Regions from separate parts of the Homo sapiens genome. Here region 2 is linked to region 1. The links come from fine-mapping of genetic effects on gene expression. A gene starts in region 1. The other region holds a variant in brackets. All regions are shown on one strand. Distances are between the middles of the regions.

What was found.
Region 2: its variant is fine-mapped to the expression of APPL2 in tibial nerve (GTEx, PIP above 0.99).

The regions. Positions count from the first base shown.
Region 1 is chr12:105,231,034-105,239,686 of GRCh38, reverse strand. APPL2 (adaptor protein, phosphotyrosine interacting with PH domain and leucine zipper 2) reads left to right here and starts at 3,513. Exons shown (of 21, transcript NM_018171.5): 1 at 3,513-3,728. The coding sequence starts at 3,675. RefSeq lists an enhancer at 3,130-3,630 and silencers at 3,495-3,634, 3,685-3,934.
Region 2 is chr12:105,263,599-105,272,251 of GRCh38, reverse strand. No RefSeq gene overlaps it. Among named protein-coding and RNA genes, the nearest start is that of APPL2, 32 kb to the right of the region's middle. The variant G/T (reference allele first, on the strand shown) is at 4,908.

The DNA.
Region 1 (8,653 bases):
CCATACCCTCGACTTTGACCTATATCTCTCAAATCTCTTGCTTGAAGGATTGCAAAAGCCTCTTCAGAACCCAGAGATAGTCTTTAAAAATGTAAATCAGACCCTGTCATTCAGTTGCTCATATTTACAGTGGCTTCCTGCCATATCAAGAGCAACACCCAAAGTCCTTCCCCATGGACTCAGCGTCCTCTGTGAGCCAGTGATTGGCATCTCTTCAACCTCATCTCCTCCCACTCTTTCCCGCCTCGCTGTCCTTAGCCACATTGGCCTTTCTGCTCCTCCTCAAAGAGGAGCAAGCCTCAGGGCCCTCACACTTGTTCTTTCCTTCGGGCTGGGCTTCCCTGATTCAATTCTCAGCTCAACAGTTGCACACCTCAAAGAATCCTTTCCACTTCCCATGATCCTCTATTCCTTTACTAAAGGTTATCATACACTTATCAACTTGTATTTGTTTCTTATTATTTCCTCCATTAGAATATAAACTCCATTAGGGCAAGGACTACTTTTTGCTTCAGCCTATATCCTCAGCTTCTAGAGAAGAGTCTAACACACAGTCGGTGCTACCTAGTGAATGATTAACGGCAAAAGCAGCATTGTGCTATCAAATGAAATGAGATTCATGAAAACATTTTTTAAACTCTGGAGTATCAATCATGTATAAGTTATAATAACACATTATAGTTTAGTAAGTATTTATCAAGCAACTGCTTTTGTGCTAGGTAATGTACTAGGCACTCTAATTACAGAAATAAATAAGACCAAGTTCCTACCCATTCTAGCTGGAAGGTTGGAGGTGGAAACAAAGAGAGGTAAGTGTTATTCTAGAATTATCTCGGCAAGTGCTACTGAAGCACACTCAAGGAAAGGAAAATGTATTCTGCTTGGGGGGACAGGAGTAAATGAAGACTTCATCAAAAAAGTCACATTAAACTGGGATTTGATGATTGTGGTTGGGTTTGTCAGACAAGAGGCAGGAGAAAGGGCTTGACTGGCAGAGGAAAGAATCTCAATGCGTGTGCCCTATCATGCAGTTTGCTAAGCATCTCCCAAAACAGCTGCCTTCTTCACTCCTGCCTTTCTCTCTTACTCCTGAAGCCCCAGGCCTTCTCTGACCTGGCCATCCTGGGTCCTTTTTTTGTGTCTCACTGTGTCCTTTTCCCCACTGGCCTTCAATGGGTCACAGGTTACACCTCCATATAATTCATCCTCTCTCTCTTCAGACATCACGACAACTCCAGACTGTCCATCTTTATACTTCCTGTCACCAACTTCACAGCTGACCAGGGATTTCAGAGACAGTGGGGTGGATTTCTAAAATCCACCTGCATAATAGTTTAATAGGAACAGATATATACTCTTTAATGAAACATTTTTAAATGTTCATGTTGACATAAAAATTCCTCTTATGTAGTTTCTCACAGATTATCAAAGGAGAGGATATTTGCCTTCAGAATTTAAATGAGAATCAAACAAGTGGGAGACAGTGCTTAACACTGAGCAGTCTATATTTAATACATGAATGAATGATTGGATGAATTAACAAATGAGATAAATTAAAACCATTTATGCATGTGTTGTATTTCCAGATCTACTTTTGTAACTTAGTTGTTTTGAATTTGGGATAGATTTTCCCATAGAAACAATGTTGTAAACAGTTCTTAAGTTCCAAGAAATCCCACTAAGGCTGTTTAGCCCATAATGTAGCAAGAAAATGCAGAAAAGTAATGGGATAGCTTAAACAATTTTTGAATGTTGAATACTAGTATTTGAAGAAAAGTAACTTTAATTAGAAGATGAGGTGGTACATGAAAAATGCTGTGATTCCCAAGGGGCTGTCTGAGCCCTTTCAAGGGTTCTGAGGGCACTAACTTCTTGTAATGCATATTTTCAAATTAAAATGTGCACATTTATTTCCCTGGGTATAATACTATCCTTGTACTGTTCTCGCAATCAGGATGAAGGAAGAGCATGAGTCTGGCCGTGAGGAATTAGATTTCAGTGAGAAGAGAGTCTGGGACACTGGATGAGGTAAAATGAACTGAATGGCAGGCGGTATAAAATAGAGGAAAGGGAAGAAATATGGTGTGAGCATGATTCCACCTATAGGGAAGACAAGAGTATGGTGGAGGCAAGAAAGAATAGGGAAGAAAGAATACTGTGGAGGAAAATATGGTAGATGGAGGCCATAAAATGGTTCAGGTCAGGTTGGCGCTGGCCAGACCAAGGGAATAATGGCCTTGGAGTTTTCAAGTGATCAGGCAGCATGCTACTATACTAGACTGTCAGAGGTGTCAGCAATGCAGATTGGGTCTTGATATACCTAAGAGGTCTCTGCAGAATGCAGAATTTATATATTACCATATCCCCTCTGTTGATTTTGGTGACACACATACTGCATGATTTTTTTTTTTTTTTTTGAGACGGAGTCTTGCTCTGTTGCCCAGGCTGGAGTGCAGTGGTGCCCTCTCGGCTCACTGAAACCTCTGCCTCCCGGGTTCAAGTGATTCTTCTGCCTCAGCCTCCCGAGTAGCTGGGATTACAGGCGCATGCCACCACGCCCGGCTAATTTTTGTATTTTTAGTAGAGACGGGGTTTCAGCATCTTGGCCAGACTGGTCTTGAACTCCTGACCTCGTGATCCACCCATCTCGGCCTCCCAAAGTGCTGGGATTACAGGCGTGAACCACCACGCCCGGCCAGTCTTATTAACTTCTAAAGAAGGAACTTCAGAAACCCTTGCCTTCCGTGTAAAAAGGTGTCACGTTCCACTTGCCAGTCTTCTTCCATCCCTCTCCCTTCCTTCTTTTCTTCCTCTGGCGTTTACTAACTGACCCTGGGCAGACCACTTATTTCTCTGGGTCCCATTTTCTCATCTCTAAATGACAACACTGGAACCTAGATTATCTAGCCCTTCCAATTCTAAACATTTGATTATGAAATTCTCCAAAATCACAAAACATAAACCAGGAGGACGAGACCTAATTATGACCACATCAAATAGCTGTGGTTTCCAAAGTGGTTATTTCTGATTATCACAGACGAGTCAGTTATCCAGCTTTTCTCCTCTTTTCTTTGTTCCCATAGCATAGGCGACCTCTTTGCTCTCAGAGCTGTTTCAGGGGCGTCGAAATTTATCTAGAAAAAGTGGTGTGGGAAGTGTGGGTTTTTCCTTCCATTAAAAGAAAAAATCTGTTCGCTCCTTCAACTCAAAAGGCTTTCTGGGTAGCCATAAGCAGATAAAACCTTATCTTTCTACCCTCGAGTTCCTCTTTTGGACTTCATATGCATTGACTTGACGGACCTTCAGCACAGAGAACAAACACCCGAAGGGTTCCCTCAGCAACGGGACTGGCACCCAGAGCCCCCCGCTCCCCGCGAGCCGGCGAGCGCAGGCGGAAGCGCGGGCGCCACATTTCCGGTGTCGGGACCGGAGCTCACCACACTTCCGGTTTCCCTGCCGGGCGCGCCACACTTCCTGTTGATCCGGCTCGGCCGGGGGCTGGGCCGGCGGGCAGGCGGCGGCGGCCACTGGCCAGGCGTGGACGCGCGCGGGGCCGCCGCGGGCACGGAGTGGCCGCCGCGTCGCCTGAGCCCAGAGCCGGGGAGTGCTCTCGGCCGCCGCGTCTCCTGCCCTCTGTCCTTCCAACCCAGCCCTCGGCTGAGCCGCGCCGCACCATGCCCGCCGTGGACAAGCTCCTGCTAGAGGAGGCGTTGCAGGACAGCCCCCAGGTACCTCCCGCCGCTCCGGTGCCCCTCGCCCGCAGGGGTGAGGCCGAGGAGGCCCCTCCAGCCCCGGAGTGGAGGCCGCGCCCCCGGCCGGGCAGCCGCGGGAGTGCGCCCGGCCCCCTCGCGGCGCCTCCCACCGGGTTCTCTCGGGCTGAGGAGGGGGCGGGCCGGGCCCTGAGTCCTGAGCCGGGGCAGAGCTGTGGAACAGGGGAGAGAGCCCCGCGGCCGGAGTCTTGATGTCGTGACCCCCCTGCAAGCTCAGCTGCAACTGAGTCTGCGAGATCTAAACTTTGATTCCATGTAGTAGCTGAGTGCCTCAGGAAAACCACCTTATTGTGCCTTAGTTTTGTCGTCTGTAAAATAGGAATAATAATTGTGCCTGCTTCATAGGGTTGTTAGGAGAAGTCAATGAGAAATACCTGTAAAGTTGTCAGCAGACAATGTCCGGTACAGATAATGAGTCAGTCTTATTACTGCTACTCCTAATGATGTGATGAGACTTGTGCCAGCCAGAATGAGAGGCAGAGGGCCTGGATCTCTTTTCCGGCGGTACCAGGCCTCCTTTTGGCACCGTTTTCCCATTAGTGAAGAGAAAAATACAGTACCTGCCCCATTTGTCGCACAAGGGAACTTCATTAGCACACTCGAGATGAGAGTCAAGTCCTTTGAGCTCTGCAGATGAAAACTGGTGTGTAAATATAGCAAATGAGTGCAGGATGACATTAGTTCATAATTCAGCACATCTTTCCCCAGGGGTCTTTTGTTCTCCTTTGTTTAACATTTCTCCAGCTTCGTACCTACACTCCTGGTTCAGCATCCCGGGTTTATTTAAATAAGTGCCTTTATTTCCTAGTGTCTCAACTCTTGAAAACTTAGAATAAGATTAACCTATTTTCGTTTCACACTTTCCCCTCTCTTTTGGGGTTCCTTCCCTTTTTCTTCTAAGTGAATAATACTTCCCAGGATGATCCTTGTATGGATTTACCTACATCGACAGTTCAGAATAAGTCCGAAGGGCTGTATGCATAGGTGTCTTTTGTTCATTTTTTGTGATCCTCCTAGTGTAGATAAGTAAGGAACTGGAAGCAAGCTGTGTGTGTGTTTTTTGTTTGTTTGTTTTGTTTTTTGGTAAGTTTGCATCCTCTGGACGACTTTTTCAAGGCCTCCCTTTTTTATATGGCTGTAGACTCCTGGCATTTTAATCAGACTAAAGCCCTTGGTAGAAGGCATTTTGTCCATGTTCATATCTGTTGTGTGGAATCTGAAGATAGCAATGTGAGATTTTAAATGATCACTTTGAACAAGGATCTCTGTTTGCCTTGCACTTATGGAAACTGAGGTGCACAGAAATATCCTGCTTTTCTAACCTACATGGTGATGCCTAAGCCAGGTTACAGTGATTATACTAACTGATTCTTGATGTTGTCCTCACAAACAGATCATATTCTTAATTTCCAGCTCTAACATAAAGGAATATACACTGTTTGTGAGTGGCTTAAAGGATTTGCCCAGCTGTGAGGAAGTAGACAGGACTGTAGAGCAAGTCAGGAGACCTGGGTTCTAATTCTGGCTCTCACGCTCACTTAGGATGTGATGTGGGTGAGTCTCTTCATCTCCACCCTGTAGCTGGCTCAGTTTCCTAATCTACAGAACATCTACAGAATGAGAGACAGGGAGGGAGCAGGTGATCTTCAAGGTGCTTTAGAGTTAACATTGTCATATCTACATGGTGTATAACTTTGAACTTGTATGTGGCAGAGGAGGTTTAGAGATATTATCATTCTTATTTAATATGTTCCTTTTAATATAGGAAGTTTATTTGTCATTGCTTTTGAGACTTGGCCATCACCCTTAAGAGGGCTCTTGATGGTGCTGTTGTGCAGAATGGAAGCTGACTTTAAGAAGGTCTTTAATGATCATCAGAGCATATTTATATACTACTCTCTTGTATGTGACCTGTGCCTAATGTAGCTTTACTCCCAAGGTGACTCCTAGACTTGGAACTGGAAGGAATCTAATCCATCCCCTTCATTTTATGTGCAAAGCATAAAAACAATAGCAAATGCCTGTTTCATGGATTTTATGTGCCAGGGACTCTTCTAAATGCTTTACATATATTAACTCACTCAATCCTCCCAATAGTCTTGAAGTACATTCTCTATTTAAATAACTAAGGAGCAGAGAAGTAATTTGCTTAGAATTATACACCATAAAGTGACAGAGCCAGGACTGGAACCCAGGCAACTTGCCTGTACTAGGGATATGGTTCAAGTTAGCCCAGCTATCTAGCACCGGGCTTTTCTGTCATCAGTGACCTAAAATGTTTCACTAAAAGGAAAAGATCCTAATAAACCATCTATTGTGTGTTTCTTCTAGTTTTATGAAGAGTAATTTTGAGAGTTGCTTCAGTAATGTGATTGCACAGGATGAATTAAATGAACACCAAAGCTTTTGTAATTGAACTGAGTGACCCAGGAAGAGCTGAATAGCAGTTAACTGACCTTAGACACATCTATTCATGGACTCCTTTTTAGTTTGCAGTGCTGCACGATGCATTGTAAAACTAGTCTGTGTGCATACACATGCGTTATTTCTGCTTACCTCTCATATGTGGGAAGCTGAACATTTTAGGGATTAAGAAATCTGCCTCCATTGTTGTTTAGAAGCCTCTGCTCCTTGCCTGGCACTACTGGCTGTTGGGAATGTGAAGATAAATAAGAGTGACTACCCTTGACTGGTTCACAGTTTGTTCCAGAGACAGATAATGAGGCAACAGTTCCAGTACAGTGTGAATCCTGCTGCGATAGGAACACAAATGCAGCTTTGAGCTCCTGCAGCTTGTACTTCTTCAGGGGCTTATTCTCTTGTCCTGTAAGTAGTACACTTTTGAGGTAAGGTGAAGACAACAGCACTGTTGCTTGCTCGGTTTGTGTTTTGTTTGTTTCTTTTGCGATTGGCATAACGGAACAAAGAAATAAAAGATGTAGTTCTGAGGTTATGCAGTTGAGTGGCCCGGCTGGGAGCAGCCCTCTCCAACCAAATCAGGCCTTTCTTTCCTCAAACAAGATAATCTCAAAACATAACCTGGTGGTTTTATATGTCTTCACTGTGGAGATGTTTTGTGCTGTTCCTCTTTTTGTTTATAACCTATTTTTCCTTTCAATAGACTTGGTTCTTTTTTTTTTTTTTTTTTTTTTTGAGACAGGGTCTCGCTTTGTTGCCCAGACTGGGGTGCAGTGGCATGAACACGGCTCACTGCAGCCTCAGCCTCCTGGGCTCAAGCGATCCTCCCACCTCAGCCTTCTGAGTAGCTAGGACTACAGGCATGCATCACCACGCATGGCTAATTTTTTAATTTTTGTAGAGACAGAGTCTTGCTGTGTTGCCCAGGGTGGTCTTGAACTCCTGGGCTCAACCAATCTTCCTGTCTTGGCCTCCCAAAGTCTTGGTTCTTTTCACTAGGACATTCTCTTCCTCCACCAAATTATGGAGATAAGAACTTTGTTTATAACCTTAAAATTTTCTCAGTAGTCAGTGGTGTTAACATTGGGCCACTACACAATTACACACACTATTCTTGAGAATGTCTAGGAGTGTTTTATTAGGTAATACCCAGTTTCTTTAAGGTAAAGGAGTGATAGGGAGCTGAGGCTGTGTGCATAGGGTGCTTGGATTTGTTTCTCTGGCCGAGCATACCCTTAAAAGTGTCGGGCAGTAGAAAATGGATGGAATTCCACTCCTGAATCTGCTACTGTTACTTTTGGCAAGTTACTCAATCTCTCTGAGGTTGTGTTTGGAGGTATGTAAAATAAAAATAAAAATAGCTATTTAGTTGAGTTGTTAGGAAGAACAAGTAACATATGTAAAGTGTCTCCATGCTGGCATGCCATAGTAACCCCATAAATGATTGCTGTTGTTATCTTTGTAAGTGAGATATACCAGTGTCTTTCTGACCGTGTCTTTCTGACCGTGGGATTTTGAGCTACTGGTGTGCCTTTGCTTTATTCTTGGTCTCATTCCTTCTTTATGTCTCAGAATATCTCTGTTGTTCCAAACCAAAGTTTGAGCAGACACAGTATAGTAAATGAGGATAGCCAGTGTCCAAGGTAGCTGGTTATATTTTTTCCAGAGGTGATCACTGCCAAGTTAAATTAAAAAGGGAAGACCAGAGTTTCCCTGTCAGTTCTAATGGGCATCACAGTTGCATTTCCACGATATAAGGAAAAAGGACACTTGTGATGTAGTTCTCTGGCAGGTATTGTGGGCGGGAACATGGTAGTAGCATCCAGCTCCAGTCTGCCCCTGTCCTGCCTCCAGTCAGGGCTGTACGCTGTGGACCAAAGATCATGCTCGCTGATGAGAGCCACCCTGCTGGTGACCTCAGTGCTGCCGACCCATTTACATCCCAGCCCTGCCACATTCCTACAGTGGGAGGTTGAACACATTTCTTAACCTTGATGAGCCTCAGTTTCATCATCAGTAAAATGAAGTTAATGGAACCATGGAATCTACCTTGGAGAGTTGCTAGAAGAATTAAATGAAGTCACATATGTTTAGTGCCCAGCACAGCGTCCAGCACATAGGTGGTACAGAGTAAGTGGTAATTTTAGTTTTCTTTCTACCCTCTTTGTGGAGGACATTCATGCAAACCCTCTCTTTCCCTTTTTACCTCTTTTCTTCCAGTCTGTTTTTATCCCTTAGAGTATTAAATGCAATAAACAGGATTTGGCTAAATGGACATAGTAGTATTTTTGAAAAAACTAGCCACAATCCAGTTATATCACTTCTCATTCTCCTGAATCAGTGTGTTTAACCTACTGGTTGACATCCATTAGTAGATTATGAAATCCAGTGGGTCACAACCACAATTTTTGTTTATAAATGGAATAGACTAAAATAGGAAAAAGCCACAATGTGTATGCATATTA
Region 2 (8,653 bases), 33 kb before region 1:
AATTCTGTAACCAGCCTCTTCAGCCGCTTGCTGGAGCAGGCTCCCACTCCATGGAATGTACTTTTGTTTTAGTAAATCTGTGCTTTCGTTGCTTCATTCTTTCATTGTGCTTTGTTTGTGTGTTTTGTCCAATTCTTCGTTCCAAACACCAAGAACCTGGACAACTCATAGTCAAGACCCTCCACCAGTAAAAGGGAACAACTGCACTCCCCCCAGGCAACAGATTGAGATCCTGTCTGATTAAAAAAAAAAAAAAAGTATTTTTCTACTCCAATGTGCTGTGTCTATTGGTCTATACTTACCTCCCTTTTTCTCTTAGACTTCCCATTGTTCCTGTTTTACTCCTCTGACCCACTACTAATGGCTAATTAAAATGTTTTTCCCAGTCTAGAAATGGATTTCCTGTCTAAGTCTACAGAAAGACATGCGTGCAGAAAAGCACAAGCGTTTTAGCCGTGAACCTCTTTTCAAATGAAATCTTACCTGGAATTCTAAGATACAAAATTGTAGTTTTTCAGGTTGAAGTTGGTGCAGAGGACCTGAGGAGCACAATCCAACTCCAGCTGTGGCAACTCTGTTTGTTATCTGACAAACTCTCAGATGTATAATATAGGATGGTGACTCTTGACAAAGCACAGAATAGAATTTTGACAAGCCTAATGATTTTTGAAAACTCTTTGTCAAATCTTGTCATATACTATGAGGATCCATCAAAATGACAATCTGCACACCCTGCCAACATGACTAATTCCTTAAAACAATGAGAAAACTCATTACTTTGAAAGAAAGAAGAAAATGTAGAAAGAGATGTTTAGCATCCTCTCTCTTTTAACAATTATGTGGCTTATAAAACAGACAATAGATATACAGCCAACATTGCGATTTAATTAGGGCAATAGTTTCAAAATGACTCTATCAGAAACTAGAGAAGGGAATATCTTTGGAGAGCCTGAGCCTGTGTTTCAAACCACTGCAGCAGCAGAGCAACTAAGAAAAGAATAATAAACGGTTGTGATATTTAAGGGTGGACACTTTTAAGCAGTAAATAAACAAAAATTATCGTTATCACCATCATCATCATCAAATCTGACACTTTGAGCACGAAGCCTGTGTTGGACACTGTGCTAAATATGCTGTGTGCACCCCCTCATTTCATCCTGACAGCCCTCTGAGGGTGATACTGATATTATCTCTGAGAGATTAAGTGGCTTGCTCAGAGTCACATAGCTGATAAGTGGCAAAGCTGGGGCCAGACCTCAAGTCCATCTGTCTCCCAAGTTCTTTAATACAACTGAAGCTTGTAAGTATTGGAATGTGAGGAGCCCAAAATCCCAAGCACAGATCCATAGCCAGGGGTTCCAGTACTCACTGGAATTTGGTCTCCCCCTCCCTACTTCACTCACCGAAAAAGGATGACTACAGATGTGAACTTTCACAAGTCTGGGATTCATGACACCTTATGTGGAACTGATTAGTTCAAAGACCTCAAGCAGAGAGTCTCTCCTTTATTTTCTCAGTAGGTCTGTGAGTTAAGGAGAGGAAGGTTTTATTATTGCTGACATCCATCCTAAAGAAGAAAAAACAGGCACAGAAGATGGTGAAACTTTTCAGGGTCATACAGGGAATCCTTATGACAGCAAGTCTTTCTGTAATAAACTATTGGCTTGCATGCTAGAAGGGACTTGTGGCCCCAGAAGCAAAGCCTAGACCCTGGCCTTCCTCCTTCTCACCTTCCTACTAAAGTCAGGGGCCTGAATGGGACCTTAAAAACAGGATCAAAATAGCTAATATTTATTAAGTTTTACTCTGTGCTTTATGTACATTACATCATTCATACCTCTCTGAAACCTTCTGCAGTAGGTACTATGTCCTCCAGGTAAGAAGAAAGGAAAATAGAGATTCAGCGTGGTTAGGAAGCTTGCTCAGGATGACACAGCTAGCTGGAAACAGAGCTGGAATTTGAATTTGGCCAGCCTTGCTTCTAATTTATACTCTTAACCTGGCACAAATCAGCCATGTCCAATGTACAAAAGGGTTATGTTTTAATTTGTTTGCTTAGAATTGGAACATGTTTTCTCTTATAAACAATTTTTAAATGGTAGGGCTCCCAGATCAGCCCACAGAGGCCTATTTATGCCTTGATGTTGTTCAAATTCACCTATTTGCAGAAAAAAATAGCAGGAACAAGATGTTTCAATTGATGATAATGAAAGTAAATATGAAAGCAAATACAATGAATAAGGAACATTTTAAAAATCTTAAATATCTATGTTGGGAAACTCCAAAATCACTAGAAGAGGTAAATGAAAATTTTGGGAAAGCTTCTGAAAATTTTTCCCAACCAATTTCAAGTACTTTAGAGGTGATTACTGCTGGCCATTTGTTATGAATTTCCTCTTTTCCGATCCAGATGCAACAGCATTAGTCATACACTCATCAAAAATATAAAGGCTGTTGTCTTTCAGTTTTGCACCCAAAAAGAGAGGTGCGTGATATAAAGAAAATGCATGAACTTTGAAACCCAGCAGACAGGGATTAAAAATCAAAATTCTGACAGATAGAGAAGCAATCAGAAAATCTCAGTCCCACTTTAGCAGGGCTTAAGTGAGTCTGTAAGTGGAAAGCTATAAGTTTGGGTTGTCTGGTCATTCCTCTGAACAGAATAGGGTATAAGACCTTGGGTATCACACGTACAGACAGTTCGAAGAATTGGGGTGACTAAGTAAAAAGGCTAAAATTAAGAAAGATTAAAATGTATCATGAGAAACAAAACATTGAAATGAGTTAGGAGAAATTGCATGTACAAAAATCAACTCTGGTTCCAGGCTTGAAAGAAATCATTCTACGAACAAAGTAGGTATACTAATGAATGCCCAGAGGAGACCCACTGAACTGGTAGCTTTTCAAGATATCCCTCGCTGCAGTCAGGCCATAGGAGTGTAGGATAAGAAGAGACTGTAAAAAGTGAACCAGTACATTTCTTGGTTCTGGCTCAAACTGCCCTTACATCAAACCAGAAACCAAACCTTGGTCCTTTACTTAAAAATACCCAGATGATATTGCAAAACCTTTCTCAAGAACAACTGTTAGAAAGTGACATTCTTTTGAAAACTCAATAACCATCAACTTTTGTTAAATATTTTGCCTTCTTTTAGTTTATACTCTTGCCAATTGGACCTTTAGTAATGTTGACTGGAAGATTGATTGACTTTAAAATCCAAATCAAATTCTGAATCCTAACATTTTACATCCAACCAAATGCAGCTATTATCCATCCTTTTTTAATACCAAAAAGTTTTTTTAATACAAGATTTTTCTCAGTATGTCAATAATATCTCAGTAAAAAAAGAAAGACCTGTAAAATTTCAGTATCTTTTGTATGAAAGGTCACTTTTTTAAAAAAGGTGTTATTTTTCCATTTGAAAAATAAGCACACTGGTCAATCAACAGTTTATATCTGGTCCTTTTAGAGATTTTGCAAAACAATGAAGATTTTCTTTTTTTGACAACATTTTTCTTTCCATAAAACAATTATTGTTCAGGGGCAGATTTCATTGTTTTAGCAGTGGAGTAAGCCACAGCCCCAAACTGAGAGGAGAACGTGGAGGTCCTTGAGGCATCTTGAGATAAACAGTTCCCTTGGAAAGCTACAGCACCTTCTGTTTCCTCATCTCCACTGCTAGGAGAGGAGAGTCACTCTCCCACTAGTGAAAAAGCCAGACTTGGGTCTTGTTTATAGGACCAAATCATAGCCTAAGTAAGAGCAGGGAGAGCCAGGAAGCCATCTGACAGCTACAGAAGTTTTCTCTTGTATTACTTTCTTGAAAGTTTCTTAAAGCCCAGGGAATGCCAATCTAGATCCTGTTTACATTTTATATGCTCAATAACGGGGTGATGATCTGATATAAAAATCAGTCTTTTACAGTGTGGTCGGTAATATGTAGCCCTCTCGGGTCTAAGTGAGCCTTGCTAAAGCTACATTCAATGAGCGCAGTCTCTTATCTCACTACTCCAAGAAATATGTGTGTGTGTCTTTATGTGTACACACAAACACAGAAACACACACAGACTCACACGCATATATATAAATTGAAACTATGTGCCAGGGTTACTTGACACACATTTTTTAGTTGATGTTCACAGCCACCTCATAAGCTGGTGTTAATTCTTAAGCTTTAATACCGAGTCTTAAGAAAGGTTACAAATTTGCTGAAGATCTTATAGCTGGTAATGGTGGGGCTGGGATAGGAACCAGATGAACCTGGATGATTGCAGTGGTTAATGTAGCAGCTGTTACCAGTGTCCTGCTTACAGTCTTCACCGACGCTCCAGCTGATGACACAGCTCCCAGTGTGGGCCTCTAGGGCCTGGAGGCTCTTTTTGGAACCATGGAAAGCTATTCTAACTGACATATGCTTGTGCAGAGAAGCACCAGGAAATGACCACAGCCTGTCTGCACTCCAATAGCCCTCCAAATGTATCTCCCCTAGCCACTTGCTACTCAGGAAGAATTATTCTGAGATGTGTTTTTTACGCCATTTTTTAGAACATCCCTGTGAAATTACATTTCAATTGCCTACAGCAGTAGTTGGTTTAATAATGGAGCCTTGGCCAGGCACAGTGGCTCACACCTGTAATCCCAACACTTTGGGAGGCCGAGGCGGGTGGATCACCTGAGGTCAGGAGTTCAAGACCAGCCTGACCAACATGGTGAAACCCCATCTCTACTAAAAAATACAAAAATTAGACGGGCATGGTGGCAGGCGCCTGTAATCCCAGCTATTCTGGAGGCTGAGGCAGGAGAATCACTTGAACCTGGGAGGCAGAGGTTGCAGTGAGCCGAGATCGCGCCAATGCACTCCAGCCTGGGGTGACAGAGCAAGACTCTGTCTCAAAAATAATAATAA[G/T]AAGAATAAGAATAAGAATAAGAATAAAATAATGGAGGCTTTACTAGCTTCCTTTCCTGTGTCACTTCCCCGTTTCCTACCAGTATTCCCTGCACTTCCCAAATAAACGACTTATACTCAAATTATTGTCTCAGGGTCTGGTTTGGGAAGAACCCAAACTGAGACAGTCACACAACCCAGTTCAGATATATAGATCCATAACTATGGCTTTCCAAAGATTTCCTTTTGGGGTTTTACAAAGGCCACAAAATGAGGAGTGCAATTGAACACAATAGAAGGGAGAACTATATACATTTTATTATTCAGTTAATACAGTTCTATCACAAACCACCACTTGTTGGGGTCTGACTATCATTTTCCTATTCCCTCCTCACAGAGGAAGTGCAACCCTAAGAAAAGAACCCTAAGGAAAGGATGGTCAAGATAAGTCTTTTTCTTCTGGTCTTTGGGCTGGAATCATTTGTTCTGCGGATGTTCTGTGTCTACCACTCTGACATGCTGGGATGGGACTTCCTGCATGGGACTACTTATTCCAGATCTCTGCTCCATGGACTTTTTCAAGCTTTAATTTAAAGGGTTTTTAAAACAGAATTTATTTTTTAGAGTAGCTTTAGCTTCACAGCAAAATTGAATAGAAAGTACAAAGAGCTCCCATATAGTCTCTGCCCCCCACAACACAGCCTCCCACACTATCAACACCCGCACACTGGAGTGGCTACATTTATTACAATGGATGAGCCTACATTGTCATCTCATTATTGCCCAAAGTCCATAGTTGACACTCTTGGTGTACATTCTATGAGTATTGGCAAATGTATAACGACATGTATCTACCATTATAGTATCATACAGGACAGTTTGGATTCCCTAAAATTTCTGTGCGTTCTGCCTCTTTATTCCTCCCTCCTCGCAACCCTTGGCAACCACTGGTACTTTCACTCTCTTCATAGTTCTGCCATTTCCAGAATGTCACATAGGTGGACTCATACAGTATATAGCCTTTTTCAGATGGGCGTTTTCACTTTATAATATTCTTTGAAGTTTCCTCCAAGTCTACTCATGGCTGGATAGTTCATTTCCTTCAAGCGTTGAATTATAGTTCATTGTCTAAATGTACCCTGGTTTATTTATCCATTCGCCTACTGAAAGACACCTCAGTTGCTTCCAAGTTTTGTCAATTATTATTAAAGCTGCTATTAACATCCACGTGCAGGTTTTTGTGTGGATATAAGTTTTTAATTCATTTGGGTCAATACTAAGGAGCACAATTGCTGCATCATATGGTAAGAGTATACATAGTTTTGTAAGAAACAGCCAAATTGTCTTCCAAAGTGGCTGTACCATTTTGCATTCCCACCAGCAATGGATGAGAGTTCCTGTTGTTCTACATCCTTTCCAGCATTTTGTGTTGTCCGCATTTTGCATTTTGGCCATTCTGATAGGTGTGTAGTGGTATCTTATTGTTGTTCATATTTCGGCACCATTTTTTACATCACTTACATTGCTGAGGAAGGCTAGCCCTACAAAGTGTCAACGATGTACTACTTATCCCAGAGGGGGTGGCTTCTCTCTCTATTTGCTTGAGGACACAGCTCTTGCAGCTCCCCTGTGGAGGGGAAGGGATCCAATTCTATTACTTTTGGGAAACAGTGTCACTTGCTGGTGGGACTCATGAAAGGTCCCTCTCTGGGGGCTGGTTCTGTAACACTTCCAGGTAATGTCACTGACTACTTCCTGGGACCACAGAAGTTACTGTTCAGGGCTTTCTTACCCATTTCATTTTTAGTCCCTTTCTTGCTAAGCATGCCATGAAGGCCAGTGGTTTTCAATCTCATTTGTCTTGATCATTTGACAAATAATCAAGTTTTCTAACGATTTACACTTTGTTCTTAAGTTTAAAAAGATGCAAGATTATCTTTATAACTTTATATTTCACCTGTTTTCCAAAACGCTTTCTTTAGTATGAGGGAAAGGGATGGAGTAAAGCCAAATGGGAGGAACCTAGAAATTTCCATAGCACATGGGAGTGTCATGGGGAGAATTCTGAGAACCTCTGGGGCAGGCTTTTGTCTTACTGGGCAGTGCTCAGCATTTGGAAAAGCTGATGATGAGGTGGGGGCAAGAGGTGGATGTGAATGCAGAGGCTTAAAGTTTTACCAAGCAATGACCTAATAGCAATAATTTTTTTTTTTTTGAGACAGAGTCTCACTCTATCCCCCAGGCTGAAGTGCAGTGGTGCGATCATGGCTCACTGAAGTTTCTATCTCCTGGTCTCAAGTCATCCTCCCACCTCAGCCTCCTGAGTAGCTGCAACTACAAGCGCACACCACCACACCCAGCTAATTTTTTGTATTTTGTGTAGAGACATGGTTTCATCATGTTGCCCAGGCTGATCTCCAACTCCTGGGCTCAAGTGATCCTCCCACCTCCGTCTCCCAAAGTGCTGGAATTACAGGCATGAGCCACCGTGCCCACCTGCTAGCCACTATTCTAAGAGCTTTGTATGTATGATTGTATTTAGTACTCAAAACAGTAGCAGGTACTTTTACTATCACCTCCATTTTGCAGAGAGTTTAAAGAACTTACCTGTAGCTCCAGTGGTGCAATCAGTTAGTATATGGTACTCTTAAGAACTTACCAGACAGCACAGAGATACGGACTGAATCTAGCCAGGCTGATCCAGGTTCTGTGTTCCTCAATGTGCCACATCACCTTGATGCTGAGACTCATCTGAGACTTTCTTAGTGGCATTTCCTCACCCCACGCCGCCTCCTCTGTTAATAGCATGATATTATTAGGTTGGCACAAAAGTAATTGAGACTTTTGCCATAAAAGTAATGTATCCATTCACCTACTGAAAGACATCTTGGTTTCTTCCAACTTTTGTTAATTATTATTAAAGCTGCTATTAACATCCATGTGCAGGTTTTTGTGTGGACATAAGTTTTTAATTCATTTGGGTCAATACCAAGGAGCACAATTGCTGGATCATATGGTAAAAGTACGTGTATTTCTGTAAGAAACAGCCAAACTGTCTTCCAAAGTGGCTGTATCATTTTGCATTCCCACCAGCAATGAATGAGAGCTCCTGTTGCTCTACATCCTTGCCAGCATTTGGTGGTGTCAGCAAACCTGCTCTCCCCTCCATTCTATTAGATTGGTACAATTACTTTTGCAATTACTTTTTGCAATTACTTTTGCACCAACCTAATAGAATGGAGAGGAGGGCAAGTTTCCCAATGACTGTCCTCACTCACCCGTGTATTTATTCATTCATTTAACTGACAACTTCTGATCAAGCTCCAATTGTGTGCTGGGTACTCTGCTTAACCTTGAGAATACAGCAAGGAATGGGACAAAGTTCCTTCTACTCTCATAAGAAGTATATCTTTCATGTTGGAAACCAACAATAAACATATACATAAATATGGAAACTGTGATGGTGACAAGTGGCGGGAAGAGAAGAAACATACACAATAGAGAGTGTCTGGGAACTACTTTAGATTCAGTGGGCTGAGACCTGAGTCACAAGAAAGGCTTCATGAGAAGATCTAGGTTAAGAAAGCCCCAAACAGAAGGAAAGGGAGCCTACTGCGTGTGTTTGGAAACACAATAGGGTGGCATTGTTGGAGTGAAATAAGGGGGCCCGGGGCCCCACCAGGTACAGCCCTACAGGCCATGGAGAGGACCTTGGATTCTACAGCATGTGTAATGGGAACATGGGAGGGTTTGAGCAGGGGAGTTAG